Linked DNA regions of Homo sapiens. The protein of the gene in region 5 interacts with the protein of the main gene of each other region in a pairwise test. Each region holds a gene or a part of one and is shown on either strand. Other genes may lie near its edges.

What was found.
Region 1: the proteins of HINFP (region 5) and TRIM44 interact in a two-hybrid assay, tested with the Homo sapiens proteins (one large-scale study listed by BioGRID).
Region 2: the proteins of HINFP (region 5) and POM121C interact in a two-hybrid assay, tested with the Homo sapiens proteins (one large-scale study listed by BioGRID).
Region 3: the proteins of HINFP (region 5) and CDYL2 interact in a two-hybrid assay, tested with the Homo sapiens proteins (one large-scale study listed by BioGRID).
Region 4: the proteins of HINFP (region 5) and RBM26 interact in a two-hybrid assay, tested with the Homo sapiens proteins (one large-scale study listed by BioGRID).

The regions. Positions count from the first base shown.
Region 1 is NC_000011.10:35,811,964-35,817,239, reverse strand, and holds part of TRIM44 (tripartite motif-containing protein 44), read right to left. Parts: 3' UTR 1-5,276. UniProt on the Homo sapiens protein: May play a role in the process of differentiation and maturation of neuronal cells. May regulate the activity of TRIM17. Is a negative regulator of PAX6 expression.
Region 2 is NC_000007.14:75,414,892-75,421,315, forward strand, and holds the end of POM121C (nuclear envelope pore membrane protein POM 121C), read right to left. Parts: intron 4,552-6,424; coding exon 4,429-4,551; intron 4,003-4,428; coding exon 3,905-4,002; 3' UTR 1,895-3,904; downstream 1-1,894. UniProt on the Homo sapiens protein: Essential component of the nuclear pore complex (NPC). The repeat-containing domain may be involved in anchoring components of the pore complex to the pore membrane. When overexpressed in cells induces the formation of cytoplasmic annulate lamellae (AL).
Region 3 is NC_000016.10:80,800,543-80,806,888, forward strand, and holds the start of CDYL2 (chromodomain Y-like protein 2), read right to left. Parts: upstream 4,057-6,346; 5' UTR 3,632-4,056; coding exon 3,608-3,631; intron 1-3,607.
Region 4 is NC_000013.11:79,394,580-79,400,489, forward strand, and holds part of RBM26 (RNA-binding protein 26), read right to left. Parts: intron 1-5,910. UniProt on the Homo sapiens protein: May be involved in the turnover of nuclear polyadenylated (pA+) RNA.
Region 5 is NC_000011.10:119,132,824-119,137,723, reverse strand, and holds the end of HINFP (histone H4 transcription factor), read right to left. Parts: intron 4,861-4,900; coding exon 4,722-4,860; intron 4,630-4,721; coding exon 4,505-4,629; intron 3,781-4,504; coding exon of another isoform or gene 3,641-3,780; coding exon 3,226-3,640; 3' UTR 1,665-3,225; downstream 1-1,664. UniProt on the Homo sapiens protein: Transcriptional repressor that binds to the consensus sequence 5'-CGGACGTT-3' and to the RB1 promoter. Transcriptional activator that promotes histone H4 gene transcription at the G1/S phase transition in conjunction with NPAT.

The DNA.
Region 1 (5,276 bases), about 83 Mb from region 5:
ACACTCATTCTGGGGTAGATGTAGCTAAAGGTATCTTTCAGTTTTCTGCATGAAGATATAATATCTGGAGTACCTCTGGATATGGGCATTATCAAGATGTCAGTCAGTTTAAGTCCATAAATTTGAACATCTACTCTGTCAGGCGACTTTGTCATCATTAGTAATATAGGAGCAAACGACTAATACAACCTTCAAAGAGTTACAGACATCAACCTTATGAACAAGTAAATACATACGGTAATTTGAGGTACTTACCGTTGATATGAAAAAGTACATGGGGATGTGGTACAGAGGGCTATGAAACAGCCATGGGGAGCATCTAGAGGTGAGCAGAGCAGCTCAGTGAGGGGCAACATGAAGGTGGCTCCATCTACTGAATCTCTAACAGGACTCCAGCACAACAGTCAGAAGCTACCATTTCTAAGTGCTTACTATGTGTCAGGCACTGTACTAAGCCCTGTAGACCATCTGCTCATTTAATTGTTCAGAGTTAGTAAAGAACAAAGCCAGTACTAAAACCAAGTCTGTATGCTTCTAAAACCTAGTATCAGGAGCAAGCTTGTCCCATTTTCCAAAGACAGAAGACGGCACATTGCTCTTTTTTGTGAAGATGCAACACTAGGGTCAAGTGGTTCACAATGTTAACAGTTTCCTCCCAACAATTTAGTCTAAATTTTACTTTTCACTCCATTCCATTACTCTTAGGTCTACCCTCTAGAGACCCTTCTGTTCCCCAATTACACACATAAAATCAATTACATTGTATTATCTGATGCCAGTTGTGTTTATACTGTAGAAGGCAGAAAAGTGTTTTTATGAGTGGAGATTGTTTTTCCATTCTGTTCCTTCCCAGGGGGGATCTAAATACTCTTTTTGAAGTTAGACATTGTGTGTGGTTTTGGAGCTGAGTTGGGAAGAGGATGGATACGCACCACACCTTATTTATTTTCTCTTCTGTGAAACAGTCTCAGCTGTTTTTTTTTCTCACAAATTCAATTTCTTACTCTTGAAGAATGACCCAAGCTGAGAAATTTCCCAAACATCTGAAATCTGAGAATTTGTGCCTGGAATCCATGAGGCTCATGGTTTCCAGATGGAAAGGCCGGAAGAATAGGAGGCGGAGGAGTAGAGGCAGGGTGGAGTGATAAAAGGGAGGGGGAGCCTGAACTTTGGATCACTTCTGACTGCCTTGTGAACTAGGCCAGGTCCCTTATTTGCTCTGCAAGTCTGCCATTTGACAATGGGCCAGGTCTGAAGATAGACAGCAGTTTTGCATGTCCTCATGAGGCTGTTTCAGTGATTATTAGAAGTAAGTCATTGTAAAATTGTCTTTTTCTGAAGGCAGTGACTGAAAGCAAACAAGCCCATGACTTGGCTATTCAGAGGGGCATAAACACTCCAGATGGATTTTCTCATTGTCCCAGAAATGGCAAAAGACAGACCATTCTAGGAATCCTGGCTTCTTTATACCACTTAAACATATGCAATGGCAGATGCCCCGGTGACCTAATTCTTCCACGTCTTGTCCTCATAATAGAGGTAAGAGAAAGAGATTAACAGGAAAGCTTGTTTTGAGTACATAACAGTCAAGTATAATTTGGCCACAAGTGGGCTAGGTATACTCTCAGAGGAATGCCTTTATTTGATCAGACAGGTCAGAATCTTCCAGGGAAAATATTAATTTGGGGAAAATAGATCAGAACCTACTTGTTATCAAATGGGAAATTGGCTTGAGTGTTGAGAAATACCCATTTTTATTGTTATCAGTGGTTTGTCATCCTCCCCACCTGAAACTACCCTACTGACACTCCCTATTGCCCTACTATCACCAAGTCAAAGAGCAATCTTGTTCCTCTATCATAGTTCTTCCTACTTAGAAGCTGAATTTCATACTAGGATACAGCCATCCAACTGGGTCTAAAAGGTCTCATAATGTGTGGAGAGAAACCAAATATAGAAAAGTTACTTCCAATTAACACCTCTAATCTCCAGATGTCCTAATAAAAACAGTGAGGCAACAAATGGCCACCCTCAAGCCAGAGAACCATACTTGGACTCAAATGTTTTTAAGAGCCAGGGAAAGTAGCTAACCTCCTCTTAATTTGATCTCCTGGCCTGGGACATATAAATGTTTAACTACACTCTGGCTTAGGGAGGAAAGCAAGCAGAGGTGAATGTATCCTGTAGTGGCATGGCTTCAACAGAGCATTTGTCTCACCCTGAAATATGAAGGAGCAATGCCTGCCTCCTCAAGCTGAGCAGTGCCCAGAATTTATGAACTTCAAGTATGATGTGAATCTGGGGTCCGAGCCAGGCATTATCATTGGGAAGTGGTGGACAATTTCCCTCTCCCTCCCTCCTCGTTTTCCTACTGCTGATTGTACTGTTCAGAAGTGAATCATGATTTAATCCCCTCTGCTGTTAAGAGTATTACAAAATGCTGGTTACAATGAAGTCACAAAAGTATTTACATAAAAGAAAAAAGACGGACAGAGAATGTTATAGCAAGTGACAAAACTCATCATTACCACCAGCAAAAAGATAGGTATGGAAAAATCCTTGCCTGGGTACCAAATGGGATGCAGCTGATTTAGACCATCTCTATATATAATCAGCGTGGCACATGTTTTTACAGTCATGCAGTGTTGAAAGCAGTGCATCATGGGAGAAAAGATAGTTCTAGTCACATGCATCTGGGTTTTTAAATCTTAGCGTCATCAGATCAGGGCCAGGTTACCCCAGAGTGCTCAATAATCCATGAGAAATGAATCCTATCTTCGTTCCAGGGCTTAGTATTGGCATTACACCATTATTAGATGCAAGCAATTCTTTGATTGATGGCTCCAACATGGATTAAGGTCAAAAGTGGCCCTGGAGACCAAATTCCCTAGTGAGGAACTGCCACATAACTTCATGTGTCTTTTGCTTCTGAATTATTTCTTCTAGAAACCACCAACCACAAGCTGTCACGCTGGTATTATATCTACATAACGTTTATTCTTCTTACAGCAAAGAGCTGGAGAAATACAAGTGAGAACCTGTTATTACAGGTTAAATTGTGTAACACTCAACTTGCGCTGAGGTCCAGTTTCTTTTTATTATGCTCCAATTTTGTTGAATGACTATTGCCTAAAATAAATGGGCAATCGACAGGGGCTTAGAACTAACAGGGATGCTTAAGTGACTTTTATGGTAGCAGTATTTGTTGTAACAGAATTTGATCTGTATTCTAGTTATTAGTTTTATTCATCACATTGGAAAGTTGGCACCTCCACTGTTCATGCCATTATATGCAAAGCACTGTAGCATGAAAGTCACTTACAAAGCTGTGAAAAAAACTCTCTGAACACCAGAGGCTCATGAAACAATAAAAGTCAGCTAGGGGGATATACACTGTTTGATTTAGCTAAATATTCTGGATGGTCAAAGGTTTATTCCTTTTAATTCCTAAAAGTTTTTTTTTTTAACCATTGGGATGTAAATATTTCTAAAATGTTTGATATACATATTTTTGTCTTCTAAGCATAGTTTTTTTATGTATGGTGCACAGGGTCATCATTTTAAATAGAATATTGTCCCATGATACAGTGAGGCTCTTAAAGATTGAGATGTGTATAGACTGTTTTTGACACTAAATAACCCATATATCAGGGCTTTGGAGCTTTGCAGTCTACTCAAAATTTCCATTTTCTCTATTGCTGTCCTCCTTTTTCCTTCTTGTTTCCTCTAAAAGTCTGTTTCTTTCCTTTACAGTTAGAAATATGTGTGAAGGAAGAGCAAATAGGTTCTGAGGAGGTGCCTGATGACTAGATGTATGGCCTTTGTCTTATGCGTTTGCTTCATGGTATTTATTTCAATTGGTTGGAAGCCTTGTTTGCTTACTTCTTAATTCTCAGTCACTTTTGATGGGTTCAGCAGAGGTTCTAGATTTTTCTAGTTCTGTCTCAGTTACTCATTGTCAAACCACTGGTTTAGATTTTGTGTTCAGGAAATAGGGATAGGTAAAGCTATCAGGTGGCTAAGCCCTAGGTAAATGAGTTGCCATGAATCCTAAAATATTGTGAAGGTTGTGGGCCATTTTTATAAGGCAAATGGTATGCTGTGGCCGTGACAGCTGAACTCAGTAAGTGAACTTTAAAACAGATAAGCTCCTTTTGCTGTTGTCCCTTTCCAAGAATATGAAGCTGGCCTGACGTCAAGCTGTTGGAGAGCCTTCAACATGTTTAATTAAATCACAGACTCAGTGTCAGAGCTGGCTGACTTTCAGGATTCTAACGCTATAGCAAAAGAAGACATGGTTTTGCCTCTCGTTGATTTTCTTATTTATGGCCTTGGAATAAAGAAGATAAAGCAAGTCTAACAGTTCTCCCTTCCAAAAGTACAGTTTCAGGCCAGAAGATTTGACTGCTACCCTTAGACTTTCTTTCCCTCACTGTACATTGCATTTTACAGGCTATACAAAGCAAGACCTTCTTTGCAAAAGGCAAACTCCTTTGCCCCAAGGCCATACTGTACATGTGTGGGGGTAGTTGTAGGGGGATCAGTGTTGTTATTCACCAATACAAGATGGAATCAGTGCAGCTAGGAGAGAAGAGATTAAGGAAAGAGGCTGTGAAGTCTGCTAGACCTGGGTTTAAATTCTGGCTTCCCGCTTATTAGGGTGTAACCGTGGTCACAGTACTTAATTCTCTAAATTTGATTCCTGAGCAACAAAGTGGGGAATGATAGTATTGGTGCTGTTACTATTATGATAATGTGAAAAACAACAGGAGAGTACCTGGCCCAGAGAAAGAGCTAAGTGACAGCTCTTATTAACATAAATGAATGATTTAAACCTGGAGATTACAATAGTTAACAAGCACAGACACTTAGTGCAGTCTGTTACTGACTTCAAGCAGTCTTTTGCTTTTGTTTCTATTTCTGTGACATCTTCTCTTATTACGACTTTCTGTTGGGTGTCTCTAACTCTGGTGCCTTGTGAAGGCCAGGAGATATTCCAGACAAGCTGAAATTCTACCTTTTTATGAGTATAAAGGAAATGGGGCCATGTTGGACCAAACAAAGAGTAATAAAATAAAATATAGAGTTGTAGCTTTCAGAGGGAAAGATAAAACAAGAAAGGGCTGGGGCAATGGATGTGGTGTTGAGATACTGGCACCAGGAAGCAGGGAAGAAAACCTCCAAACACATTGTGGTTTGTTAAAACACTGAAGACTCCTAAGTGCTACAGTGGCAGGCAGTGCCACCCCACCAGGCAGCAGTGTCCTCCGCAACTG
Region 2 (6,424 bases), on a different chromosome or scaffold from region 5:
GACTTACAAGCCCTCAAGGGGAAGCATTTTCTCCTGGACTCCTTGATGCCGGAGCTGCTGGTGTTTCCCGCCCAGACAGATCTGCATGAACACCCACTGTACCGGGCCGGACACCTCATTCTGCAGGACAGGGTAGGCAAGAGGAATAGAAAAGGGAAGAATGTGTAGGCACGGGAAGGGCCTAGCCTGGGGTCTCTGTTTACCCGGCCCCTGTGTTCTGCCTGCCAGGCCAGCTGTCTCCCAGCCATGCTGCTGGACCCCTGCCAGGCTCCCATGTCATCGATGCCTGTGCCGCCCCAGGCAATAAGACCAGTCACTTGGCTGCTCTTCTGAAGAACCAAGGGTGAGTGCCACAGGAGGAGGAGGAGGAGGACATGGGGTTTGATTTTGTGCCTTTCAGTGGGTAATAAAGGCTGAAAGGATGACTTTCGCTTAACTCTTTCCTGCTGTACCAAAGTAGTTCACGGTATTTGCCCCAAGCTAAGCTTTCCCCACTGCAGGTGTGAGATGTGGATCCCTTAGCCCTTGGGGCAGAGACCCCAGGCCAGTTACCTCTGACCCTGGGCCCTTTAAATATAGGCCGTTTCAATATTGTGTGTCCTGGCTTAACCTGCATGTTCTGGTTGTCTGTGTCAGCTGTGACAGGCCCTTAGCTGCTCCATGCATGCTCAGCTCACCCCTGCTCTGCCCTCTGCCCTAGGAAGATCTTTGCCTTTGACCTGGATGCCAAGCGGCTGGCATCCATGGCCACGCTGCTGGCCTGGGTTGGCGTCTCCTGCTGTGAGCTGGCTGAGGAGGACTTCCTGGCGGTCTCCCCCTTAGATCCGCGCTATCGTGAGGTCCACTATGTCCTGCTGGATCCTTCCTGCAGTGGCTCGGGTGAGATGGTGAGAAGGCGTGGCTGAGGGACTCGGAGGTCCACAGCAGCTTAGACCTGGAGTCATCTGTTTTGGTCTTAGTTCTGACACTTTAATGGGCTTGGGACCCTGGAGCAAAAGTTCTCCTCTGTGAGGCAAGGATTTCAGGAGCGAGGATTTCAGGACTGAGGCAGCCTGTGAAGCTGTGTAACCGAGACACGCTTTTCCTTAGGTATGCCGAGCAGACAGCTGGAGGATCCCGGGGCAGGGACACCTAGCCCGGTGCGTCTGCATGCCCTGGCAGGGTTCCAGCAGCGAGCCCTGTGCCACGCGCTCACTTTCCCTTCCCTGCAGCGGCTCGTCTACTCCATGTGCTCCCTCTGCCAGGAGGAGAATGAAGACATGGTACCAGATGCGCTGCAGCAGAACCCGGGCGCCTTCAGGTACAGGGCGGGCGCCAGGGTCGTGGAGGGGGGGATGGGGTGAACTGCTCTCTTACCCAGCATTGGGGCTGTTTCTCTTGCAGGCTAGCTCCCGCCCTGCCTGCCCGGCCCCACCGAGGCCTGAGCACGTTCCCGGGTGCCGAGCACTGCCTCCGGGCTTCCCCCAAGACCACGCTTAGCGGTGGCTTCTTCGTTGCTGTAATTGAACGGGTCGAGATGCCGATGTGAGTGAGTGGGGGCATGCTTGGGAGGCGCAGGATGGTACTGGCACATCTAACATCTACACTTCTCTAGCTCAGCCTCACAGGCCAAAGCATCAGCACCAGAACGCACACCCAGCCCAGCCCCAAAGAGAAAGAAGAGACAGCAAAGAGCCGCAGCCGGTGCTTGCACACCGCCTTGCACATAGCAGAGGCTCCAGGCTGACTCCTTCCTGGTGGGAAAGGAAGATGCCTGTCCTCTCCGTGGAGGACCCTGGGCCCTCACCGCAGGCAGCAGTTTGCATTTTGAAAGGTTATTGGGTCCCTTCCTCGGGCTGTGTTCTTGCTGGTGAGCAAAAGTGTTGCCTGCAGAAATAAAATGCAGAACGTACTCTACGATAGATCACAGTTTTTTATTCTTAATGTCACAAGCAGGAGAAAAATCTCACATTCATACTAAAAATTCCAACTAGACTCAACAGGAATGAAGTCTCTATTTGTAATGGAAAGTCCCAGCCTCCCGCTGCCGTCCAGTGTGTGTACTGTACACATCCACACTCACTCTCACTCAGGGTTCCCGGACCGGCTGTCCTGCCTGCGGAACTGAGGTAAACAAGCTCAGGTACTGACACTAGGAGGGTCTACCTTACATAAGGTACAGGTAGAAGCTTGATTGCTAGGCCCAGGCCCACCCAGACCCTCCAATCCTAACAGGTATTTAGGCTTGAGGTTCACTCCCTCCTCAGCTGCACACGCAGCCAGGTATAACACTCGCCCTCAGTCACAACGGGGAGGGGGCACCGGTTACATCTACATCACATTATTTATAAAATAAGAATTACATTTCATATAACATGGCCAGAAGGAGCTCTAGTCCCCCAGGAAAGCTGCCGGGGACAGCATTTGAGCCTCTTCTTTGCACAGGCATAACTTAACTATACAGCTAATTCCTAGTTAATAGCATTTATACTTAACCACCTCAATGAACCAAGCTTGAAGGAATTTAAAAGGCAATTTAGCTTAAATACAAAAATAAATTTTTGTTAAAAAACGTTTAAATATTTTTTTCTTTTAATTTAGACACACGCATTCATACTTCTCCCAAAGAGGTTGGGCGTGACAGCAAGGCGCTTGGGCCTGGGGTATGTGGTTTCAGAAGGACGGAAGGAAAGGATGGGCTGCAGAGGGCCCTGTTTGGGAAAAATAGGATTTTAAAAATATGGTTCATTAATTTAGGTTTTCTAACATCTACTTTGGGTGACGTAGCCTCCAGTGAGGTCAGTTAAGTGGGACAGAAACCGCAGAGGGAAGAGGTCTTTGCTTCCCCTGGGCCCATTCTCCCTGGCTGCCAGCCCTTGAAGTCAGAACACCATGGGAAAATTCAGGAGTCGGCACTTGTAGCCGTCAAGTGGTGCTACTTTCCACATTCAATTAGCGAGGCCCCAGAAAACTTGAAACAGGAAGTCCGGCACTACCAACATGCCGCCACTCATACAACTCAACTCTTCCTCCAAACTCGATTCAAAGAGCAATACACAGAGCGTCAGACAAAGGAACACAGGACAAGGCTTGAAACATACAATCCTGGAGAGGCAGACGAGGGCCCAATGGGGCCAAAGGGTAGCTGGGCGAGGAGGCAGCTGAAGCAGCAGTGGGCATCCTGCCTGCTCCAAGAGCTTCTCCCTTCACCCCTGGCTCTGCCAGGCTAACAGTCTTGAGCCACCAAGCTCTGAGGGGCCAAACTGGCAGAGGGTTGGAGATGAAACATTGATTCAGGCTTGGCAGGAAGAAAACGGCAGGAGCAGCACCCACTGGGGTCTCCAAGGCAAAGCTAGATTCAAGGGCATTTAAAAAGGAGGGAATCCTGCAAGGAACCGGTGAGGGACACAGCAGCAAGAAATGGGGAAACAGAGTCCCCAGAAGGGACCAGAGGAAGAGAACCACTTCTCACAGCTAAGCCAAGCAAGATAAAGCTTTAGGGATAACCCATTTCCCAAATCCCATCAGGTGCACACCACCGATCCAGGCGGGCTGGACCCTGCCCCCTCCAGCGACGACGGCTCTCGGGGAAAGGTGGAAGGGGCGCCTGCCTAAGGGTGCGCTAAGCGGGAGTCAGGGCAGCGGACACTATGTACAGGTCCTTAGTTCTCCAGCCTCCCCAGTGGAACTGTTCAAGTAGAGGTCCCGGGCTTTGGCCCTCCGCATCCTGCTTCCCCTTCCCTGAGGCTTGTGCTTCCTCCAGAAGGGAAAGGGCCCCAGGGCTGCCACTGCCCCCTGGCGGCTGAAGCCAGAGATCCGGGGTAGGTTTGCTTTACGCAGCTGGAAGGGTCCAAGGCTCTTTCTAGCACGTGCCAAGGTCCAGATTTAGGGAAGGGGTGGGGGGAACAGGGACAGGGGACAAAGGCTACTTTTTGCGGGTGTGCTGCCTTCGGGCCTGCAGTCGCTGTCGAGCCCCTGGGGTCTTGGATCCCGCACCAATGGAAAATGAAGGGGCCGCCGATCCTGGAAAGATTCAACAAGACCTCATCAGGGCAGCTGCTACCTGAGACTCTGGCTCTGGGTGCCCAAATCTCTGGAAGGCCAGGCCAGTAATAAAACACAGGGTGCCTCAATAGGGCTTTCCCCGCTGCGTCAGAAACACTGTACGGGAGGAGCCTCCTGAAATGCAAACTCCCAGAGTCTCAGAGCGAGGCCCACGAATCCATTTTTACCTGGCTTCCCATGGGAGGCAAACTTCCACCCCGGACAGCTCCTCTCTGATCTCTGCCATCCAACTCCCATCCCTGGGCTGTGCTGTACTCCTAACCCGAAATGTCTTTCCTGTGCTGAACCTGATCTTCACGGGGCCTCAGAGGGCCAGGAGCCTGCCACCCCACCCAACCTCTCCTCAGACAGACGAGCAGGGCCACAGGGTGGCTTGCTGCTTACCGAACGGTCCAACACCAACAAAGCCTTGGGCGGGTGCTGAAGATGCCCCAAAGGAGAGGCTGCTGCCCGATGTGCCCACTCCAGGCGCAGGGGTGTTCTGACCAAAGGTGGGGGTGGCGGTGCCTGGAATGAAGAGAACAGAGAGCTAGCCAGTGAGCAGAGGGCGGAGGCAGGCGAGGAGCCGGGCAGGAGCCTGTGCTCTGCAGGGCACTTCCCACGGGACCCTCAGCCCCACTTCTGCTTCTGGGGCACTCCTCCATCAGCAGCTGAGCCAGACAACCGAGTCTTCATGCCTGGTGCCCCAGCTCAGCCTGCTTCTCCCACCCGCTAATGGCCACGCCAGGGCAGAGAAAAAGCCCCCCTGCCCCGCAGCCACCTCGTGGGCCTCCTGACCATCGCTGCAGAGGGGAGTACTCTGGGGCCCCCGCCTCCTAGCGTACCTGGGTTGGCTACCTCCTCTGTTCAGGCCTTTTCCCCCTAGCCACCGTCCCCTCCCCTCTGAAGCCTGGTTTGTCCGTCCTGTGTCTTTTGTGATGCCCCGTGGTCCCCTCCCTTCCCCGGCCTTGCCCTGACTGGCTCTGGCTGCCTGCCCGATGCCCTCTCTGGCAGCCCCTCTGCAGGGATGGCTGCTCTCAGGGCTTGGCCTCCGGCCCGGACAAGGGGAAGCTCCCTGTGCTCCCACGCTGCTTCCACACAGTTTCTCTTCCTTCCCTAAATACCGTAACTCAGGTTCAAATCACTTTAATCTGCCATGTCCTCATGTCACCTGTCAACTGCCAGGTCACTCCCTGATTCACAGAGGACCCTTGGCTCACTGGCTTCCTCCCCATCACCACTCACGGTGACTTCGCCCTGTGGGGCTGACTGATGGTCCTCTCAGCCCCTCGGCCCTGCCACCCCCATGACCTCCTCTCCCCGACCCCTGCCACCACTCCTGCAGCCACACTGTCACCACAACTGCTCCGGCTCCCGAATCTCCTGCAGGCACCACCCCTCCTGCAGCTGACTTCACCCGCTCTCCACTCCTGCACCCCCTGAGCTGCATCGGGGCACTGACCCGCTGCCCCTCCTGCTGTGCTTGCTGGGGTCTCCACAGCCGGGTGGCACCAGCTGTCCGCTGACCTTAGATCTATACCCAGTGTCGCTGGGAAACACACGCCATGCTAACTGGCCTCACTTTAACTTCACAATCACAATTTTCCAGCCCACAAACTGCCTGGAAACTGATCACACTTTTTAATATGATGTTCCTTTCCCCCACTGTCCAAAATGACTATTTCAAAAGACCCCTTTTTTATACACTTTATCCCGACCTTCCCTCTCCCAGATTTTCTCTCCTACTTCACGAAGCAAACAGAAGCCATGGGATCTACATTCATCTTCCACACGGGAGGAACCATCACTGCATCCTTCTGCCTGATTCTGCAATGGTTTTCCTGAACACTTAAGACCCAAACACCCAACCCTGGCCACAAACAATCCTCGCCTCTTGGCCTCCTTCCACACCACTGCTTTAGCTCCTGCCCTCCTGCCATGCTTGTCTTTGTTCTGCTCTTCAACATACCAAACATGTTTCTGCCTCTGGGCCTTTGCATGCGCCATCCTGGGCCTGAAAGGCATGTCCACTTGTGCTGTGCCCACCCCCACCCCACCCCCATATTCAGCTTACGCTTGAGACAGTCTTGCTCTGTCACCTAGGCCAGAGTACAGTGTGGCATGATCTTCGCTCACTGCCACCTCCACCTCCTGGGTTGAAACATTCTTCTGCCTCAGCCTCCCGAGCAGCTGGGATTACAGGTGGGTACCACCATGCCCGGCTAATTTTTTGGTATTTTTAGTAGAGACAGGGTTTCGCCAAGTTGCCCAGGCTGGTCTTGAACTCCTGTCCTCAAGTGATCCACCCTCCTTGGCCTCCCAAAATATTGGGATTACAAGCATGAGCCACTGCGCCCAACCTTCAGCTTACAATTGTTAAGTACTCAGAAGGCCTTTGACC
Region 3 (6,346 bases), on a different chromosome or scaffold from region 5:
TGGATTCAACCAACCACAAACCGAAAAGATCCAAAAAAAAATGGATAGTTGTGGACACTTCCCTACAGAGAGAGAACTGAGCCACCCCTACACACGGTTTTACCACCACCAAGAGGCCATGAGCTTGGGAAAGAAAAAGACAATAGAGGGTAACACTCAACAGAAGGACAACGAAGGTCACACAAGGGTACTTTATATACTTAAACCAGTCTTCTGCTCACTGATTCAGTCAACAAGTAATTGAACGTACAAGCAGGTAGAAACCCAGAGAGAGACAAGAAAACTGAGAGCCTATCCCACTGATTATTTCTTCCTGACACCCAAACATCTTAGCAAAAGATTGACTAGAATCAGGTTGCAAACTCTAAAGTCTACTGGAGCCCAGTGAATGATTTAAGAAGAATGGGTGCCTGGTAATAGGGAGCAAGGGGACAGGGACAAGCTAGAGATCATATGCTCCATCTAAAAGTGTTCAAATCGTTTTTCTTATCTACCATTGAGCCAAGTCAAAATGCGTATGCAGCCTAGACCTGGCTCACAGGCTGCCACTCCATGGCCCCTATGTTTAGCCGAATATAGACCAGGGCATCTGGCTAAGAAATTTCACTTTCGATCCAGACAGATACCTGACTCTAAGACATAACCCAAAATTTAAAATCACCTTCCTATAAGTGATGGCTACAATGCACCAGAAGATGATGAGAACTCCACTACAGGAGAAACAAACCAGAACTATCTATCAAGATCCAAGATTTTGGAACCTGAGCTTGATTTCTTATTTCTTCACTATGATTGAAGAGTGCTATTACATAAACAAAGTTTTCGTTTTCTGGTGTCTTTAAAAATCAGCACCTATTCCTAACAACTGCTTTATGGAGGTTCACTCTTTACAACTTAATTGTCTGAAATGCCAAAGAAAAGATGAAGAATCTCTACAATCCAAATCACACTTCACCATAAAGGCTCAAAGATAATGTCAGCAGACACACAGGTGAAATATATCAATTACAAACGTAAGAACTCTTGGCCCACTAAAAACGTGGTTTCTTGAGTAGAGATTGCGAGAAGCCATTTTATGTACACTTTAGTATAATATTTAATGAAAGTAATAAACAGGTCTCATAATTTAGAATGAAATCTGTTTTCTTTTTTTCCTTTCAAGGCCAGTCAACATACACTGGATATTCCAATATTTTTCTTAAATCAATATGCTACTTTTTACCCACATAACAACTTTACAGTCAGAAATATATATGCTAATGTACACTTAGCACTTCTTAATTGTTCTTAAAGCTAAATTTGAACAATAAATTAAATTTCTCAGTATATGTTATGTAATGTAGACACAGGCTATAAAAATGTTGACATTCGTTATATTCTCGTAATGCAATTTAGCCCTTTTAGTAATGACTATGCAAATAATCAGCCATGGGAAAGCCATTTTCCATCTAGTACAATTACCTACTATCACAGAAGTAATTATTATTATTGTCCTCCTTAACTGAAATTCTATAAAAACTCTTGAGATACTAAGATAGTTCCAAGGCCACCGTGAAAACTCTCCTCTTAACAGACTAATCTGGCAACGACAATTACCAGCGTTAAGGAGGGCAGTTGCAGATGAACATTAAACAAGAAATTATCCCCAGAAGGTTCATAAGTTCTAAACTTTAAATGGGGAAATACTGATGACTCCTAGTACATCCTCTTAACACCTTCAAGACACAACTTTTCACTCAGGCAAGGTCAACAGCTCTAAGCTGACTCAACCTCAATTCGTAGAAAACCATGATTCCAACCAGATCACTTTCACCCCTAAACAATATCTACTTTTAGCCAATGTCCCCACAGTACTGGTTACACATAAGGAAACTCAATCAAACCTTCTATTTTACTGTGCTTCAATTTTCAATTTCAGAAATTGTTCCACCATCTTGAAACAGACCAAGGCGCTTGGGTGATCCATTGGCCACATTTGCCGAAGTTCTTCACAAGATCTCTATCCAACTTCACCTTGTCTCTTAGCATAGAGATGAGGACGGCCACAGGGTAGTGAAGAGGGCAACATACACCATTCTTTCAAGGAGCTCTAAGGTCTCCCACCCACCCCACCTGAACCTGCTGGCCGGCAGTCCAGGCCTGGGCCTCACCAACTCCAGAATCATTCACAAGAACATGGTCACACAGGAGACCTGTGCTCCTTTCTCCATTCTTCTTCTCTAACGCCAGTCAGCAAACCCACCACCTGAAAAAGCTTCAACTGCCCACGAGGGCCTAGAGGAAAGAGCTTCTTAGGAATCACCCCCTGCAGTCTGTCGTGGGTGGATCACCCTACAATGTCTTATGCAAAAGGCTAATTCTACCCCTTCTGGGTGCTTATCTCAATGGAGCCCCAAAGCCTTAAGAACCAGATGGCGTTAACCAATTTATGTTCCGGGAAGTGCAGGTCCAGGCTAACCCATGCGGCTGGTTTCACGGAGGCCCAGAAGGCCCTCTGGTTGAAGATGGCTGGTCTCTTAACTTCTTTATCCTGAACCTGGTCTTGGCGGCCAACACCTCTGAGGCCATTCCCTCTGGGGAGTGGTGGCTGGCTGTTCCTTGTGTTGTCCACTTGTGGAAAACCCAAAGCAGTAACAGTTGTGTTCCTAAGCCCTTGCTCCCCAAAGACCATGGGTGTTCCTCCATTGTTTGAAAGATGCCAGACTAATGTCTTCCTTCGCCACTTTTGGGAAGACATGAGAGTATCCAACGCTGGCCACTACTCATTAGGACCTGGAGCCAGGTATCCACTGAGGGTGACGAGAGTACTGGGCGCTGGGCTGGCATCTGTGTCCTATGTCCCCAACACCTCAGACTTCCACGTTCTCCTCCCACCCAGGGCCCTCCGCAGCGCCCCCTTTCGCCCCCAGGGAGCACGACACCCGCAAGGGCCACCCCCACGCCCGAGCCCGGAGGGCGTCCGAGCTGGTGCGGGGGCAGCAGGTGGGGGGTGAGGGAGGTGGCCCGGGGACCCCGGGGAGCGGTTTGGCGGTTGTCCCCCCGAACCCCCACCCAGCCTCCCCCTTCGCAGCCCCCCGGGACCCCGCCTCGCCCCGGCCAGGCTCCGCTCCGATCGCCCGCCCCCCTCCTCCCCCGCGCCCCCGGCCCAGCCGGGCCGCGCAACCCCCGCCCCACACCCCCGCCGGCCGCGGCGCGCCCCCCCGCATTCCCAGCACGTCCGGCGCCGACTTTTACCTGTACTTTCTGTACTCGAGGCGGCTCGTCGGGCGAGAAACACCTCCCCGGGACCGCTACCTCCCCCGCCCCGGCTCCGCCCGGCTTCCTCCTTCCCCTCCAAGGCCGCAAAGTAGATGGAGTAAGAGAGTGTGTGTGCGAGAGAAAGAGAAAGAGGGAGCGGGCGCGGGCGCCGCGGGAGGCGGCGGGCGGCGGGCGGCGGGCGGGAGGCGCGCCCGGCCCCCGCCACCCTCCGGCCGCCGCCGCCGCCGCCGCGGGCTCGGCAACTCCGGATTGCGCCCGGCCCCGGCCCCGGCCCGGTCCCCGCCGCCCGCCGCCGCCGCCCGCCGCCGCCCGCTGACTGGGGCCGGCCCGCGCCCCCGCGTCCCCGTACCTCGTAAAGGTCCCCAGAAGCCATGCCAGGCTGCGGAACTTGGCTCGCCGGTGTGCGCGTCTGCTCGCTCGCGCCCTCCGTGCGTGTGCGCGCGGGGTCCGGTGTGCGCGTGTGTGTGCGCGCGTGTGTGTGCGAGTGTGTGTGGTGTGTTGAGTAAACTGTGTTTTTGCAGAATGACAGGCTTGGGGGCTGCCTATGCGCAGAATCAGAGCGGGCGGCGGCGGGGCTGGCGTAACCGGCAGCAGCGGCGGCGGCGGCGGCGGCGGCACGAGCGCGGGCAGCAGCGACGGCCGCGCAGCGCGCCCGGGAGGCACGGACGCGGCCCGAGCGCCGCGGCCCCCGCGACCCGGCGACCCGGCGGCGGTGGCTGCAGCCGGCAACGGCTCGCCCCGGCGCCGCCTGCAGGAAGCCGCCCGGCGCCCGCCGCCGGCCCGGACGCTGCTGCCACTGGGCGAGTCCCCGCCCCCCGGGAGCCCGGCCCGGCCCCCGGGGCGGGGAGGCGGGGGCTGCTGCCCGGCCGCGCCCCGGGGGACCGGTCCCAGAGTCGACTAGCGCTCGGGCCCGCCCCGCCACCCCGGGCCGGCTTCGGGAGCAGCTGGCGGGGCCCCCGGGGGGCGGCGGGCCAGGTGCCCGCCGGGTGCGCCCGATCTGGGGCCGCGAAGGGGCGGCCGGGGAGCCAGGTAGAGGGCTGCGGCTGCAGACCTCAGGGAAGGGGCCCCAGCCGAGCCCCGCCGGCCCGGGGTCCCCACCTACCTCCTCCACCCTCGAGGGGAGTGGACGCCGCCTGGGAGACCTGGCCCCTCGGGGCTGCGCGGCCCCTCCCTCCAGGCTGGGTTGTAAGATGTGGAGGCCACAGGGAGGAAGGATGAAATGGCCCATCCAGAGGCACCATGGGGATCCAGGACAGGCGTGGCCACCCCATAAACCCTGGAAAGTCTTTAGAGCCAGGGGTGGCCTTCCCTCAACAACCCCTCTCCCCGAATTTATTCACTCATCCCTTACTCAAACATTTACCAAAGTCAACCCAAGTGCACAGTGTCCCTGGACAGGCAAAACTGGGACCCTGCCCAGAGACAGTTTGAATCCGCAAGTGAGGAGTGTAATGGAGCACTCAGTTGTTCTAAAAGGTCATCCTGCGTGTGACAGGCTGCGGAGCTGGAGGAGCTAGAGAAGCTCTCCAAAACCCAAATCCGTTCCTAAGCCATCTCTCATGGATAAATGGTCACCCCTCTGCTTAAAGGGTTCTCCTTATAAATATTTATGTATATAGTTACTTCAGAACCTGCAAGGTCAGACTTCTGAAATTGGAGGGAAGATCTTCATCCCCACCCATGAAATGCCTGCCTGGCTCCAGATGTGATGTATCATTAACTCACATGCTCCCTGGATCATTTTCTACTTGGGAGGCTGTGGGCAGGTCACCGAACCCTGATGGGAGATGGTGATAGTCACCTAAGTGATTTAAATAGAATTAAGGAGAGGATCTACGTATACATGAAGTGACCTGTCCATCCCAGCAGAACTCAATAAAGGTGATTTGTATCTGAGTCTCAACCTGGACTGCCCTCATGGAGAGTGAGATGGCAGAGGGGCTCGATAAATTGTTTAATCCTGAGGTTGTCAAACTTTGAAAAGTCACCAAATTTTTTAATCCAAAAAAAAAAAAAAAAAAAAAAAACTCCATGGAACCTGAAGCATGTCTGGCTCATTCCAGGACACATGGATTTGCATTTGCTGTTCCCCCTGCCTAGAATGTCCTTCCACATTGAATCCATCTGGAACATTCTTGTTCTTCGTATAGGGGCTTGTTTATCTTTGTATCGCAAGCATCTTCCACTGTTCCTGAGAGAGAGTAGGTACACAGTGATTGTTTTTCGAACTATGCCAATATAACAAATTTTATACCAATTTCTAGTTAAAATCCCGCATGAAGATAAGGAAAAAATGGTGAGGATAAGGAATTAATAAATCAGAAAGCATATTTGGCTTAGAAACTGTTGAAATTGTTATAGAACTTCTCTCTTCATATTGATATTTTCCCGGTGGTCATGGTTTTAAATAATAACAGTAATAATAAGCAGTTCTCTATCTGTAGGTAGCTAAACAAATTTTAATGAGTCTTAATTTGTACTCACGAATAAATGCACCACCATAGCATGAGGATGTAATTTGGAAGAAGACAAGAAGGAAACTGGGCTTGGAAATAATATACTAAGCCAAATTTGAATATATAATCAGTAGTTTTACAAAAACACCAAAAGCTTGACTTGTACTGGCCAAGTACTCCCTGAGAATGTGAGTGCAGTTTGAAAAACCCTAGTCTAGACAACAGTTGTTTACAGAGTTCACAGAAGAGGATACTTAGTGTGGATGACCATGCTCAGGAAATGTTTTAGGACTGAAATGGATCTTGAAGACTCATAGAAAAGGAAGGACAGTGTTTTCCGTGAGGAGAAGAAGTCAGAGTAGATGGTAAGCAATTCTGCTATGGGAAGGGTATGAGAAGATTGGAGGACTGGTTTATGGAGGTCACAGGACCCTGGATGGTGAATGTGGGTCAGTTCGGAGATAGTCTTGAAAGCCAAGCTAAGAAGTTTGCTATTTAGTAGGTCAACAGTGGAGAAACTGATGAAGACTTTTGAATCAATCAAAAGCATGTGACTATCAAAAGTGCACTGTAGAAAACAAATTCTAGAAGAAATATGGGAAATCAACTGCAGGGTTTGAGGTTAGGGGCAG
Region 4 (5,910 bases), on a different chromosome or scaffold from region 5:
AAGGTCATATTTGAACAAAAGGAAGTCCAGCCCCCTTGTAGCAATTAGCTAAATTTTATTTTATTTTTATTTTTGACAGAGTCTCGCTCTGTTGCCCAGGCTGGAGTGCAGTGGCACCAGCTTGGCTCACTGCAACCTCCGCCTCCTGGGTTCAAGCGATTCTCCTGCCTCAACCTCCTGAGTAGCTGGGATTACAGGCACCCATAACAACACCCGGCTAATTTTTGTACTTTTAGTTTGGACGGGGTTTCACCACATTGGCCAGGATGGTCTTGAACCTCTGATGTCAGGTGATCCGTCCACCTTGGCCTCCCAGAGTGCTGGGATTACAGGTGTGAGCCACGGCACCCAGCCCCAAAGGGAAAATTCTCATTCTGCCCTCAAAGCATTTGAAGCCAATGGTGAACTGAATCAAACGAAAGTTGTTACAAAGCCCAGAACCAATCAGACTACAGGGCAACTGACTCAGCCTCCACTCAAGTGGCCTAACAAAAAAAAGGCATGCCCCCTTACTGAAAATAAATCTTATTTACTTCAGTCTCTACAGTCCTTTTACACAAAAGATCTAGCATAAAACCAACTAAAGGGAACACAAAATAGTAAGAAAATGTGATCTACATGAGACGAAACAGTCAATGGAAACATACTCAGAGACTGTCCAGATAATAGATTAGACGGGGACTTCACAATAATGATAAAAATGCTAAAGAATTTACTGGAAAATGTGGACAACATGCATGGAGAGGTGGGGAACTTCAGTGAATACACAGAAACTATTAAAAAGAGCCAAATGGGAAAATCCAGAAATAAAAAATCTGAATCAGAAATAACTCTCCTTCGCAGTCTGGAAACGGTAGAGGAAAAACAATAGTGAACTTGAAAACAGGAAGAGGTTCATATCTATAATCCCAGCACTTTGGGAAGCTGAATTGGGAGGATTACTTGACACCAGAAGTTCAAGACAAGTCTAGTTAATATAGTGAGACCCCATCTCTACAAAAAAAAATAAAAATTAAATTAAAAAATTAGCTGGGTGTGGTGGTGTGTGACTGCCATTCCAGCTACTGAGGCAAAAGAATCCCTTGAGCCCAGGAGGTCCAGTCCGCAATGAGCTATAATCATGCCACTGCACTCCAGCTTGGGCAACAGAGTGAGGCACTGTTTCTAAACAAACAAACAAACAAAAAAATGGAAAATAAAAAGTATCCAAATCAAAAGCAAAGGGACAAAAGTAATTTTTTAAAACATACATGAGATTTTCAGGATAATATCATATAATCTAACATACAAGGAACTAAATATAAAGTCTCAGAAAAAGAGGAAAAAAAAATGGGGCAGAAAAATTTTGAAGACATAGTGACCAATGAACTTTCCAAAACCGATGAAAGACCCAAAACACAGATCCAAATTGGCAAATCTAAGGATAAAACACATAAACACAGACAGACAAGCCTATCATCGTCAAACTGCTGACCAAATAAAAGGAATTGAATCTTAAAGGTAGTCAAAGGGGGAAAACAGACACATTACATTCAGGAGAACAAAGACTCAAATGACAGCAGATTTCTCACCAGAAACAACAGAGGACGGTGGCAATGGAACAATATCATAAAATAACTGAAAGAAAGGTGTAAAACCAACGACCTAGGTTCCACTTTAAGAGGAAAAGGACAGCAAATTAAACCCAAAGTGTTTTAAAAGGGAATCATAAAAATAAAACACTGAAATAGAAAATAGAAAAAAAAGTTAACATTGTTCTTTAATAAGCTGAATAAAACTGAAAAACTAATAGCAAAATTGATTAAGAAAATAAAAGAGCAACCAAAGGTATAATTAAAAAGGGGAAAGGAAGCATCACAATAAATCCTAGTTATTAAACGAATAGTAAGGTTACAATGCAATGTCAATAAATTTGGCAACTTCAGAAAAATCTTTGAATATCATAAATTGTCAAGAGTGACACAAGAAGAAACAGAAATACCTACACAGCCCTATACCTATTAAAGACATTGATTTTATAACCAAAAAATCCTCACAACAAAAATTTCAGTCCCAGATGGCTTCACTGGTGAAGGATCCCAAAAATTTTAAGGAAAAAAAAATAGAACCCTAAATAAATTTTTTCAGAAAAACGGAGGATAGAATACTTCCACTTGTTTTAATATTATCAAATCTACCATAATATAACATGACCAAGCCTGGTTTACCTCAGGAATACAAGATTGGCTTAATATTTGAAAAGCAATCCATGTAATACACCATATTAACAAAAAAACGGGAAAATCTGTATGATCGTCTCAACAGATGGAGAAAAAGAACTGGCCAGGCACAATGGCTCATGCCAGTAATCCTAGCACTGGGAGGCTGAGGCAGGCAGATCACCTGAGGTCAGGAGTTCAGGACCAGCCTGGCCAACATGGTGAAACCCCACCTCTACTAAAAATACGAAAAATTAGCCAAGGGTGGTGGCGCACGCCTGTAGTCCCACCTACTCAGGAGGCTGAGGCCTGAGAATCGTTTGAACCTGGGAGGTGGAGGTTGCAGTGAGTCGAGATTGCACCACTGCACTCCAGCCTGGGTGAGAGAATAAGACTCTGTCTCAAAAAAAAGAAAAAGAAATAAGAAGTTAGCCAAGTTAACAATAACCTTTTATGACAAAAATATTAAGCAAATTAAGAAAAAAATTCTCAATCTGGTAAAAGGCAGTTACTAAAAACCTAGAGCCAATATCAGTAATACTGAAACATTTAATCTCTTTCCCTTTAGACTGGAAACAAGACATGGACGTCCACTCTTACTACTTCAACATTGTACTATTGCTTCTAGCCAGCATGATAAGAAATGAAGGTATATTGGGAGGTTGAGGCAGGCGGATCATGAGGTCAGGAGATCGAGACCATCCTGGCTAACACGATGAAACCCTGTCGTCTCTACTAAAAATGAAAAAAAAAAGTTAGCCGGGTGTGGTGGCACGTGCCTGTAGTCTCAGTTACTCGGAAGACTGAGGCAGGAGAATCGCGTGAACCCGGGAGGTGGAGGCTGCAGTGAGCTGAGATCACGCCACTGCAATCCAGCCTGGGCAACAAACCAGACTCCATCTCAAAAAAAAAAAAAAAAAAAAAAAGAAATGAAGGTATAAAAATCAGAAAATTGTCATTACTCATAGATGATGAGATTGGTAGAAGAAAATTCCACAGAATCTATAAAATAGCTACTAGAATAAGTACACTTGGTAAAATTTCAGAATTCAACGTCAATATACAAATATATTTCTATATACTAACAATAAAAATCAGAAAATCAAAATTTTAAAAGCATTTGTAAAACATGTCGCAGAAAAAAATAACAAAAGAAATGCTTCTACATAGGTAAAATATCTCAAGAAGAATCACTAAGTAACAGATCTTGAACTTACTCCATTATTTAATACACACATAAAAGATACTAATAAAACCCTAAGTTAAAAATAAACTTTTACCTATTTCAAAGTTACTGCATGTAAATTGAAAAGACTTTTTCCACAGAAATAAAGTAGTAGGAGAGTAATGAGTAAGTCTAGTAGGAACAGCTTACCATTCATTCATTTCTCTCATTCATTCTTTTCTCTGGCACAAAGGAAGCAAGAAGAGGGAAAAAAATCTTACAAGCTATTTAGCTCAAGCTTCAGTTAGTCATTCTCAAGCTTAGGTTATGTACATAACTAACATGGGAATATTTTACATTTTGCTCATAATACAGTCCCTATCTCTCAGTTTAAGCATGTAAAATAATTTTGAGAAGCACTGTCAGCCAAAGATAAGGAAGTGCTAAAACATACAGAAAAAAAGTGCTAAATGCATTTTAACCACTCAGCATTCAGATGGAAAGGCCAAATAAGATTGCAGCAGCAAAATGTGATTATGAAAGTCAATTTATCACAAGTTAAGGGGATAAAGAAATAAAGAAAAATGTTTTAACCAATAATTATAGACTATTAACTCTTCTACCAGCTATAAAATTCATCAGGTTAGAATTACTATAATTCTTTTATGTGCAGCTCTATGGAGACAGCAATCTTGCACATAGCAACATTCAATAATACTTTAACAAGTAAATATTAATATACTTCAATGACCTTTCCCTCTCAAAGAAAAAAAAAATCTGAACTTAAGCTTTACCTAAACTGAAGATGCTAGGAGTAAAAATGGAAAGAAGTAGACCCAAAGACTACTTAATCTTCAAATAGCTCACATATCTGCTGTTCTGAAGTTGGGTAGATTCTATAGTTTTACCCAAATTATTGCCTCTTCCCTTGGTTTTAGGTACACAAACTTGAAATTTCAACTAACGCATTTAATAATCAGGTATATACTACACACAAAGCATTGTGCTAGATAATGTATATAATGAACAGGAACATAGTTAAATCTTAAGAGCTGGAGTCTGCTTTCAAGGGCCTGAGACTCTAATAATAAAGCTAAAATAACACGACTAAATAATTTAATGTACAAGTGATGAGTGTCATGACAACTGAAACCAGTGCTGAGAGAGAGGAGTCATGGTGGGAGGAGTCACTTCACCCAGCTGGATAGATCATAGGCAGCTTTCTGGAAGAACTGGAATCACACTTGATCTTTGACTTCAACACAAAGAAAGGATATAAAGACAGTACACCATAATACAACAAGGCTCTGGAATCAAAATGTCTTCTTTTGGATCCTGTCTCCATCACTTACTAGCTATGAATAAAGTATGCTAATTCATCTTCCTAACACCTATCTTGCACACAATGAATGTATAACAATTAACATATATTAATAGTAAGCACTCAATAAATGGTGCCCACTACTAATCTTCAGAAAAAAGAAACAGTAAAGTTTCAGAAAAAAGAAACAATAAAAAAAAATGACAGTGAATCACGAAAGTTCAGCTTTGCTGAAATTAAGACTCATATAAAAAGTAGAAAGATATAAATGGAAAAGATAATTTAAAGCAAATCATTAGCTTTCTTAAAGGCAAGCTAAAAAGTATGCAATTTATTATCTGGGAATGCTGAAGGTTTTGATCAAGCAATGGGATACAAACAAGGCTGGGCATCCATGTCAGAAGAACTGGAAGGGAGAAAGGCCTAGAGATAAAAACAGATTTGTTAGGAAGCAAACTGCAATCATTTAGATACGGAGTGTGAGCCCCCTACTAAGCAATGTCAGTAAGGATTATTAAGAGAGAACCTCATGACTAAGTGAATGGGAGGAAGGAGAAGCCAAAAAATTTCAAGCCAGCATAATTTGGAGAAATGAAATTAAAATAAGTGAATCCAGAAAACACTTCTTTTCAGAAATTAGTTTGAAGTTTAGATGAGCGATCCAAGCAGATATACAGCCAGCAATTAGAGATAAAAGCTTAAGACTGTGAAGAGTGGTTAAGTCTAAACATACTTATGTGAAAATAAATGCAGAGTAGAGGTTCTAGTTTGGAATCCATTAACAAGCTCAGAGTGAAAAGCTCTGAAATTCAATGCAAATGTGTATGTATTTGTAAATCCTAGGGAGACAGTCTTTAATCAGACTTTAAAGGATCTACAATATACACTCCAAAAAAAGTTTTTAAGAACCACTGGCATGTATTACAAAGAAAACCATTCATGGGAAAGGTCTTAGTCCGTTTGTGCTGCTATAACAGAATACCACAAGATGGGTAATTTATAAAGAAATTTATTGGCTCACAGTTCTGGAGGCTGGGAAGTCTCATATCAAGGTACTGGCAGGTTTGGCAATTCTGATTCCAAGATAGACCTTGAACACTGCATCCTCCGGAGTTCCTCCCATGGCAGAAGTCAGAGGTCTCCCATAGCAGAAGTCAGAGGGGCAGAGGCAAAACCTAACCTTTTATAAAGGCATTAATCCAATCAACAAAGGCAGAGCCCTCGTG
Region 5 (4,900 bases):
CAGCCTCAACTTCCCCAGGCTCAGGCAATTCTCTCACCTCAGCCTCCCAAGTAGCTGGGACTACAGGCATGCACCACCACGCCTGGGCTAAATTTTTGTATTTTTTGTAGAATTGGGGTTTTGTCATGTTGCTCAGGCTAGTCGCGAATTCCTGGGCTCAAGCCATCCACCCACCTCGGCCTCCCAAAGTGCTGGGATTATAGGCATGAGCCACTGCACCTGGCCTCTTTTTCAATTTTCCTTTTTAGTTGACACTTTTTTTTTTTTTTTTTTTGAGACAGTCTTGGTCTGTCGCCCAGGCTGGAGTACAGTGACGTGATCTCAGCTCACTCCAACCTCTGCCTCCCAGATTCAAGCAATTCTCCTGCCTCAGCCTCCTGAGTAGCTGAGACTACAAGCATGTGCCACCATGCCCAACTAATTTTTGTATTTTTAGTAGAGACAGGGTTTCCCCATGTTGGCCAGACTGGTCTGGAACTCCTGACCTCAAGTGATCCGCCCACCTCGGCCTCCCAAAGTGCTAGGATTACAGGCGTGAGCCACCATACCCGGCCATAGTTGACACTTTTTTATATCCACCCAGTTCTTCTAAGTCCTCTGTGGTTGTGGACTTGCCACAAATAAGAGAAAAGAAGTTATCTGCTTCCAACTCCTGGGCCACCTGCCTTCTCTCCTATCCCTACCCCCTTTAAGGAAGACTAAGACAGGGTGTCTCCTTAATCTTCAGACACCATGATGCTGGGACCAGGGTTGACTCTAGGTGAAATTCTAAGGTAACCAAATTAGTATCATCACCCTCCTCCCTCCAGGAGCCCACTGTCACCCACCACAGCCTTTAGTATCCTTCCAGAGGCCTCTGGCTGCCTAGACTACTCAACAGTGACCCCTCACTCCTGGTCCAGTACTTTCTAAGCCATGCATACTGAGTCCAGGATCCCAAGTCACCCCTCCTCCTAGGGAATGGAATCACATGGTAACAGACCAGAATCTCTTCTGCTGTCTCCATGGTCCAGATAGAGCAATGCGATTTGGTGTGGGCATGACTGAGAAGACTAGTAGGGAAGGTCCTTTTCATAGAATGCTGGCCTGCTCCCGAAGACACTGCTCATGGAAGAATGGATAGAGTCATTAGTGCTGCATTACTCAAGGGACACCCCACGCCAGTGCTTAGACACCAGCAAAACTGGGGAACTGAAAAATAAAAGAAAAAATTAGAAACAGAATTTGATAGTTAATCTATATACAATATATGTTTTAAGTATAATCATGTTGAACTTTAAATGTTTCATGGCTTAATATTTTCATTCTGATTACATATGAAAAATGGGACACCACAATCTTTTCAGAGTTTAGAACCTTTAAAGTCTTCATCTAGTCTTGGTTAGGTGGAAGGTCTCTTCCTGGATGAAACCTTTCCTGATCCCTTGCCCAGGTAGTACCATTACTCCTATTTGGAGCCTTCTAAATGTACCCTGATTAACTTCTATCACTCAGCTTACCTAGTCTTTCCTTGCTTCTGCATTGCAAGTCCCTCCAGGGAAGGTCCTGGGTTTTATTCATCTTTGTATCCTTAGCACCTGTGCCTGGACTATAGTAGGAACTCAATAAATGGCTGATGGGATTAATGAAGAGATCTTTTTCTTTCCACAAATAGACACACACAGTTTTTCTTTTCTTTCTTTATTTATTTATTTATTTGAGACGGAGTCTCACTGTGTCGCCAGGCTGGAGTGCAGTGGCATGATCTCGGCTCACTGCAACCTCAGCCTCCCGGGTTCAAGCAATTCTCCTGCCTCAGCCTCCCGAGTAGCTGGGACTACAGATGTGTGCCACCATGCCCAGCTGATTTTTATATTTTTAGTAGAGACGGGGTTTCACCATGTTGGCCAGGATGGTCTCCATCTCTTGACCTTGTGATCCGCCCGCCTCAGCCTCCCAAAGTGTTGGGATTACAGGCGTGAACCACTGCATTCAGCCTTAGTTTTTCTAGTAATAGAATTAGGTCTTACAAAAAAAGGCCCAGAGATCCTTTTTGGGCAGCTTCCTGTCCCCAAGACTATTTCCTTGACCTCTCCAGCATAGCAGTAGACCATAAAAATGGACACAGGGTGCTGAGAAGCAGCTGAACCAGACGAAATGATGATTCTTATTTTGGGAGGTTTCAATCTCTTTGATAATCTAGCAAAAAACAGATCCTTTCCCCAGGAAAATGCACATTCAGACACACAATTTTCTAGTTTGGTTCCTGGACCACTTGATTGCCTCCCTTCCCTGGGAGGCTTCCCAATCCTCTCCACCCCCCAGCTTCCTTCCCACTCCCAGGTAAAGAACCCCTACCCTAGAGGCACTGGGTTCTAATCAGTATTCAGAGTGAGGCCATGGTCAGCTGCCCTATCCTCCCAGTGAGCCCATTCTTGTTCATTCTATAGCACCACTACTGCCCACTCACAGCCAAACACCTGGGACCTCCATGGAAATGGCATACGCTCTGAGAATAGCGAAGTTTCACCAAGGGGAGGAGGAGAAGACAACAGGACAGTTAAGCAAACAAAAAACAAACCACCTGAGTCACCAGAAGGGGAACAAGCCTAACTATTCAGCTCCTCTTCTGGGTGGCTGTATCTCCTCATTACCTAGTAAACTGCCACCAAATGTAAGAAGAAATAAATAAGAGTCCAAGCATTTATTTTATTACCAAAAACAATTTGTTAATAAACACGCTCAATGCCTCCAATCCTGTCCCTGAGGATAATCATGAAAGTCCTTGGGGTTGTAGAGGAAACCTTAAGAGGAAAATGGCTACTTGGTTATCAATGCCTTGGCTGGTGACAAAGAAAGGACCCTTGCAGGGACCAGTCACATGCCATCCTTGGGCCTAAGGAGCCCGAAAGATGGGAATGGATGTGAGCTAAGGATTTAATCACTGTCAAGCAGATCTTGAGGGTTATGGTTAAGCCTGATAACAGCCTCTTTAACAAGAACACACACATCCAGGATCCCCTCAAAGAATCCAGAGTCCTCAGGCTCCCCACAAAATGTAGTCTGGCAGAAAAGGGAAGTCTTTAGAGTCTGCAGAATGATGCAAACCCAGGCCAGAGTGGACCACACTGCTCTCGGCACCACTCCTAAAGGCATCCATTGGCAACGGCTGCCCACTAGGGGCACTGCCACTTGCCTGGCTCAAACTTCAGGACCTGGGGAAGAAATGGTCTGGCTCTGCGGCCTTCAAACCATCTGGATCTCTGGCTCCTCAGCTATTCCTTGAAGCTTTTCCATGATGCCCCCTGAAGGTGGCTCAGGGGCTGGGGGAGGCTCCCCTGGGGCTTCAGACAGCACATAGTAGACGATCTCTTGCTGGCCTTGGGCATTGGTCTGATTCACCACGTGGATGACAGAACTGGGGTTGTCCTGAGAGGCTGAGAGGGCTGTCCCTTCGCTACCCTTGCCCTCCTCTTCCTCTTCCTTACGTCCTGGCTCCCCTGGCACTGTTTCTAGAATAATGCCCTGCAGGCTGCTCTCGTTCAGCGACGTTCCCAGGCCCGATCCCTCTTGTGGTTGCCGCAGCAGTTGCTGTGTCAGCTCTACACTCTCGTAGCGAACCAGCTGCAGCCGCATATAGCCATCTTCATGTTCCTTGTACCTGGTGAGGTAGGAGCATAAAGGGCAGCAAACCCAGGCAGGGGGATACAGAAATGGCCGAGGCTGGCAAAGTAAGGAACAAACATGAGGGATGGAAGAAGTCCTGGAATCCAAGTGACAGGAGTTGAAGACAAAAAAGGTCTTTATTGGAATATGTAGAAGAAAAGGCAAGAGGGAAAGATCATTACTCAAAATGGAAAGTTTTATATAGAAACCCAACCAGAAAAACAGAGACTGACTGACTGTGTTGGAGGGTGAAAGTGTCAAAGGATTTATGAGAAGGCCTTGGAGCTAAGGATCAGAACCCTTAGACTCTAGCTCTAGTTCCAGCTGCAGGACTTTTTGGCACCATTTATTGGGTTTGGCACCATGCCTTACAAGATTCAAAAAACAGAAAAATAAGCTTTGCTCCACCATTATTCTTAGGATTCTTTGAATCTAAATGGAAATGGCAGACATAAAACCACCATCAAATTAAGGTTTTATTTATTTATTTATTTATTTTTGAGATGGAGTCTCGCTCTGTCACCCAGGTTGGAGTGCAGTGGCATGATCTCAGCTCACTACAACCTCCGCCTTCTGGGTTCAAGTGATTCTCCCACCTCAGCCTCCCAAGTAGCTGGGACTACAGGCATGTGCCACCATGCTCAGCTACTTTTTGTATTTTTAGTAGAGACGGGGTTTCACCATGTTGGCCAGGCTGGTCTCGAACTCCTGACCTCATGATCCGCCCACCTTGGCCTCCCAAAGTGCTGGGATTACAGGCGTGAGCCACCGCGCCCGACCCAAATTAAGGTTTTTAAAACTGGTTGAAAAGGTATAAAAACAAGTGTGTTAATCTGGGAAGGAGGGTTGAGAGACATACCGAAAACGGGGATGCCCTGAGGGCCACTTGAACTGGTGCTTCTTGCGAAGGTGCACGGTGAGGTTGTTGCCCCGTGTGAAGCATTTGTCACACACATGACATTTGTACCTTGGCTCAGAGTCTCCCTGATGGGGAAGGAAGGGAGAAATGAGACCAGCTCTTCACCCCAGGGTCCCCCATACTTCCACTAGTCCTTCCCAACACCAGCCCCACTCACTTCATGTACTTTGCGGTAATGGGACTTGATAGAGCAGAGGGATCGGGCACTGAAGGTGCAGTTCTCAAAATCACACCTGTAGGCTGGCTCCTCGCTGTGGGTATCCAGGTGCTTCTGGAGGTCAATAAGATTCTTGCAGCTGCCATGAGAAATCAGGAGGGATTGGAGGACATGGGGAA